Linked DNA regions of Homo sapiens: region 1 is linked to region 2. Evidence: fine-mapped expression QTL. A gene starts in region 2. The other region holds a variant in brackets. All regions are shown on one strand. Distances are from middle to middle. Region 1 overlaps FLNA (filamin A). Region 2 holds the start of EMD (emerin).

The links. PIP is the estimated chance that this variant, and not a neighbour inherited with it, causes the effect.
Region 1: its variant is the best candidate, but not a certain one, in a credible set for the expression of EMD in whole blood (TOPMed, PIP 0.57).

What each region holds. Positions count from the first base shown.
Region 1 is chrX:154,349,501-154,352,392 of GRCh38, forward strand. FLNA (filamin A) reads right to left here. Exons shown (of 48, transcript NM_001110556.2): 41 at 2,681-2,892; 42 at 2,384-2,521; 43 at 2,081-2,196; 44 at 1,409-1,541; 45 at 531-707; 46 at 149-367; 47 at 1-65. Among named protein-coding and RNA genes, the nearest start is that of FLNA, 24 kb to the right of the region's middle. The variant A/G (reference allele first, on the strand shown) is at 1,580.
Region 2 is chrX:154,377,806-154,380,687 of GRCh38, forward strand. EMD (emerin) reads left to right here and starts at 1,490. Exons shown (of 6, transcript NM_000117.3): 1 at 1,490-1,761; 2 at 1,885-1,989; 3 at 2,137-2,214; 4 at 2,429-2,562. The coding sequence starts at 1,680. RefSeq lists silencers at 581-710, 731-1,150, 1,161-1,460 and an enhancer at 1,868-2,447.

The DNA.
Region 1 (2,892 bases), 28 kb before region 2:
GGTCAGAGAGTCTACAAACACTGATGATGTCTCGTGGAGGCTGTGGTTGCTGACGAGACGGGGGCCTGCAAGGCAGAGTGGGTGGGGCTAAGAGGTGGCTGTGGTGCCGGGCGTTGGGCAGATGCCAATAGCTTGGCCCCAGGCTCACCTGTGACTTTGGCCTTGAAGGGGCTGCCCCCAATGTGGTAGGGGCCGCCGTACTTGATGGAGATGAGGTAGCTGCCAGGTGCCATGGGGGTATAGGTGACGCGGTAGCCCTCAGGGCACTCCTGGCAATCCATCTTCACCTTGGAGGGGCCGTCAATGGTCACCGACAGGGCACCAGCTCCCGCATTGCTCGTGTTCACGACGAACTCAGCTGGGTTCCCTGGGAGCACAGGAGGTCAGGCAGAGCCAGACTGGCCTGCCTCCCTGTCCTCGGCCACCCAGCACAGGCTTGTCACCTCCAGGTGCCTCCTGTTGTCACCAAGAGCTTGGAGGCAAGGGCCTAGCAGCTGTGTGCACACGTGCAGCCGCACCGACAGACTTACCTGTGACACCGCCTTCCAGACCTGCTCCGTAAGCAGACACCAAGCCTGGGTCCCCTCCATGCCCAGGCTCCCCAACTCGGATCTTGAAGGGGCTTCCAGGGATGTGGGTGCCGTTGAACTTGACGTCAATCAGGTAAACGCCATTCTCCCGAGGGATGAAGCGCACAGCATACTTATCTGAGGAGCAGGGAGTCATGCTGTGGGCCTGGGGCCCCTCCTCAAACCAGCAGATGGTGTCTGTGAGGAACAGCCTCAACCCTGGCCCTCCCCATTTTGCCGGTCCATCAGTGTGAGCCCAGCCACGCTGGGCACCTGCACCCCGCAGCAGACCTCCTGAGGGCCGAAGGTTTAGACACTCAAGCTGCCCACCGTCAGGGTGCATTGGGACGGAAATCTTTTACAAGCCAAACCCAGGCCTTGCTGCCTCCTAAGAAAGGTTACCGTGAACACCATATCCCCTGCATGTTAACAGGCTCAGAGACGGGCAGGAACTTGCTTCAGGTCATGCAGCTGGGAAGGGCAGGACTAGGCCGTGAAATGAAGCCCACTGGGCTCCTCCTACCCACAAGGCTGCCCCAGGCCTGTGCACAAGTACCATGGCCGTGGCTGAAGGGCCGGGCAGCACTGAGGCTGGACTTTGAGTCTTTCCCTGTGGAGATGGCATGGTACTGCAGGGTAGAAGGCCTTCCTAATAGCTGTGGGTGGCGAGCCACATCCCCAGCGGCTTGGGTCACCAATTGGGAAAGGGTTGCCTGGCTTAGGGGGCCCAGGAGTTGGGGCCCCGTCTTGGCTGCTTACAGAAGCGGTACCTTCCTTTTGTACTCTCAGCCTGCTTCCAGCCAGCAGGGCAGGGCGGCCGGGCAGGGACAGGGCCTCACCTTGGTCAATTTCTGTGACATAGCACTCCTCCAGGGCTCCTGAGGGGCTGTGCACCTTGGCATCGATCGCCCCCTTGGCCCCGTTCAGGCTGACTGCAAAAGAGGCTGGCTGGTTGACCTTTAGCCCTGACTCCTGGAAGCACAGCAGACATGGTTAGATGGGGGTGCTTG[A/G]GCCAGGGCAAGGGAGGACGGAAAGGCCCCAGGAGCAAGAGGCCCGCGGGTCGCACTTACCCATCTGGCGTCCAACTTGGTTTAAAGAGGGAGAGCCACTGATTTGCAAGGGGCAGCAAGCCACAGGCGCACATCCCCGCCCCTGCCCCCACACTCTGCCGTCGCACACACCCAGGTGGCAGGAAGGGAGGGCTGCCCCACCCTGTGGGCAGCACCCAGCCTTGGCAGGCTGTCCCTCTTTAAACCGCAGCCCTGGTGCTCAAGGGGCACAGGCTTCTGTTCAAAGCCTTTAGACCTGAGACACGAGAAAAACTCCACGTGGTGGGCAGGATATTTCCTGCCGACCCCAAGCGTGGGCTGCACCCGGCCAGAGCAGAGGCCTGGAACCCAGAGCTGGGCCAGGGGGGTCACTGAACACAGGGCCAAGGCCTGGTCTCTGCGGTGGCTCTGGTCTGTCCGGGCCCAGGAGCCCCAGGTGGGCGGTTTCTCTCGGTGCCTCACCTGAAGGCTAGAAACAGTGAGGCGGCGGGCGTCGCCAGACGGAGAAGCCACAGGCACCACGAAGGGGCTGTCGGGAATGTGTTCCTCGTTGAACTTGACTGAGACTTCGTAGTCACCTGGGCAGGGAAAGAGTGTAAGACCGGCTCATCAGCCTTTGGGCCTCCCACCTCCCACGAACAGCCTGGGTGGCCCTGTGACCTCAAAGTGAAGAGTGAGTGCCAGGCAGGGCTATCTGTGCCAGCCCTGGGTCCAATACCCACACTCAGGCCCCACCTCCTCCAACCCCAGCCGGGTTCCCAGTACCTGGCTCCTGGACCACATAAGCCACACCACAGGAGCCGTCCTTGCGGTCCTCAAAAGAGATCTCAGCCTTGCTGGGGCCCTCGACAGCAATGGCCAGGCCTCCAGCACCAGCTTCCCGGGTCCAGATACTGAATTCGGCTGTGGGAGAACAGTTTGTCCTCACTGAAGGCTGCTTCACCAGCCTCGGCCCCCTCCAGGCATAGCCAAGGTAGACATGCCTGCCGGCTCTTTCCTCCACCCCCAACCCCACCCTGGCCAACGCAGGAGAGCGAGCACTCGGGGTGTGAGCAGGCCTACCTGGCACTCCAGCTTCAGCTCTCTCCAGGCCAGGGCCCCCAGCTCGGACCTTGTGGGCTCCCCCTTCCCCTAGGGGCCCCACGGTGAACTGGAAGGGGCTCCCAGGCACGTGCTGGCCCTTGTACTTCACGCTGACTGTGTGTGTGCCCATCTCAGCGGGAACAAAGCGGATGCAGTAGGTGTGGTTCTCCCCTTCCACGATCTCGGCCTCA
Region 2 (2,882 bases):
ACAGAGAGCCAAGATTGCACCACTGCACTCCAGCCTGGGTGACAGAGCGAGACTGTCTCAAAAAAAAAAAAAAAAAAAAAAGAATATGAATGATGAATGTCACCTCCTTTCTCTTCTCCATGAGACAGCCAATATCTGATCAAGGCCCTGGGAATGGGAATCCATAGCTCGCCACCCACGTCTGCCCCCTGCCTAGCCACGCTGCGCTCAGGGACCATTCCGACAGGAGAGGACGCCCCACTTCAGCTCCCCCCAGTGCCCCGGGTGAATGAACGGCATGAAGGGTTAGGCGGGCACACGTCGTCTCTGCACGCATCGCACGGCGCCCTCTGCCCGCGCCCACTGGCGTGCCCGTCGGCATGCCCGGGCCCCTTCGAAGACTGCTTGCTTCTGGAGTGCCAGCGGCCTCCTGGCCCAGTGCCCCATTTCCTCCCGGGTGGAGCGAGGGAGGAGGAAGGGAAGCAGAGGGGTAGGCGGTGGTAAGCAGCAGGCACATGTGCGCGGGCGAGAGCCCCGCAGACTGGGAAGGCGGGCCCATGGCAGGGGGTCTGCGGGGATCGCGTAGGCGCGGGCCTTGCCCTGCAGCCGCTTCCCGGGCGATGCGCACACAAAGCGCCCTCGGCAGCGCCTGGCCCGGGGCCCGCGCTCTCTTAGGGTCCGGGCCCTTCCCGCCGCTGCTGGGGCGGCCGACCGGGATGCGGCCGGGGAACCCTAGGCTCTGGGGCCCTGGGAAGGGGGACGACGGCGGGGAGTAGGGATGTGCAGGGATCGGGCGAAGCCCAAGCGACTTAGGGACCAGAGCCACCCCAAGCGCCGACTTCGCCCGCTCGCACGTCCCGGGTCCCTCGCGCGCAGGCCCCGCCCCTCTCACCCCGCCGCACGCCACAGGGTGACGTCTGGGCTCCCAGCCGCATCGCCCTGACTCCCGCGCGGGCCCCGCCCCCTGCCGCTAGCCAATCTGTGCGTTTGTGACTTTTGGGCCCGCAGCCCCGCCTGCTCCCACAGCGATACCGGTTTGCATTGCCCTGACTCCCGCGCGGGCCCCGCCCCCTACGCCGCTAGCCAATCCATGCATTAGTGGCGTCCGGGCTCGCAGTACCGCTCGCTCCCACCGCGAGACCTTCTGCTCCGCGCCCGCGCGGGCCCCTCCCCCTCCATCGCTAGCCAATCCCCGTTTTGTGACGTATGGGCTCGCGGCCCCGCTCGCTCCCACCGCGAGACCTTTTGCTCCGCGCCCGCGCGGGCCCCGCCCCCTCCATCACTAGCCAATCCCCGTGCTTGTGACATATGGGCTTGCGGCCCCGCCCGCTCCCATCGCGAGACCGGTTCCCACCGCCCTGACTCCCGGGCGGGCCCCGCCCTCTCCGCCGCTAGCCAATCCTCGCGTTGATGACGTTTGGGCTCGCGGCCCCAGCCTCCCAGCTCTCAGGGCACGGCCGGTCTGTGCCGGCTGCTCCCGCGGTTAGGTCCCGCCCCGCGCAGCGCGCGCAGCCTGCGGAGCCAGCGGCCGTGACGCGACAACGATTCGGCTGTGACGCGACAACGATTCGGCTGTGACGCGAGCGCGGCCGCTCCCGATGCGCTCGTGCCGCCCCCGCCGTGCTCCTCGGCAGCCGTTGCTCGGCCGGTTTTGGTAGGCCCGGGCCGCCGCCAGGCCTCCGCCTGAGCCCGCACCCGCCATGGACAACTACGCAGATCTTTCGGATACCGAGCTGACCACCTTGCTGCGCCGGTACAACATCCCGCACGGGCCTGTAGTAGGTACGCGGCGGCGGGCGGGACCCCTTCCGGGCCCCCTCCTCGTGCTCCGCCTCGCGACCTCCCCGCTGCCCTCCCCGCGCGCCTTCCCCGGCCCGCGGCCCTGACCGCCCCGTGTCCGGCCAGGATCAACTCGTAGGCTTTACGAGAAGAAGATCTTCGAGTACGAGACCCAGAGGCGGCGGCTCTCGCCCCCCAGCTCGTCCGCCGCCTCCTCTTATAGCTTCTCTGGTGAGAGCCTCGCCTGTGGGGACAGCCTGGGACGCGGGGAGGATGGGGTCGCGAGGGTGTGGCAGGGGGGCCGGTCGAGAGCGGCACTGGAGAAAGGGGAGGGAAGTCTGGGGGGGCAAACAGTTCTGTCTCCTCCTTTCAATCCAGACTTGAATTCGACTAGAGGGGATGCAGATATGTATGATCTTCCCAAGAAAGAGGACGCTTTACTCTACCAGAGCAAGGGTAAGGCAGGGGTTGGGTGGGCACGCTGGCACCTTCACCCGACTTCGTCAGGGACCCCGCTCACAGGGAGGACCTGAGACCTCAGTCCCAACCACTCCAGCAGCCTTAGGAGGGAGAAACTGTTACAGGTCCCGAAATGGGATTCAGATTAGGGCCATCAGGCCAGGCGGGGCACACCGATGCCCCCTCTGCTACCGCTGCCCCCCTTCCCAAGGCTACAATGACGACTACTATGAAGAGAGCTACTTCACCACCAGGACTTATGGGGAGCCCGAGTCTGCCGGCCCGTCCAGGGCTGTCCGCCAGTCAGTGACTTCATTCCCAGATGCTGACGCTTTCCATCACCAGGTGAGCTGGCTGGCAGGCGTCCTGTACTTGGGTACAACCTAGGGGATCGCGGCTGTGTTTGGATAAATCCAGGGGGGCACTGGGTACAAATGGTGGCTCTTGGGCCTCCGGGGAGACTCTGTGTGACTAGAGCACCCTGGTCTGGGATCTAGGCTCAGACTCTTCCTGAGAGTCCTGGGGGCAAAAGGGGATGCTGGGGCATGAGCACAAGTGGCAAGGCCCCATGGATAAAGGGCTGAACACCCAGAGCCATTCAGGAGGGTGTGGGTTCCTGGCCTCTAACCAAAGGTCAGAGGGGACTGGCTGGGGAAGTTTGGACT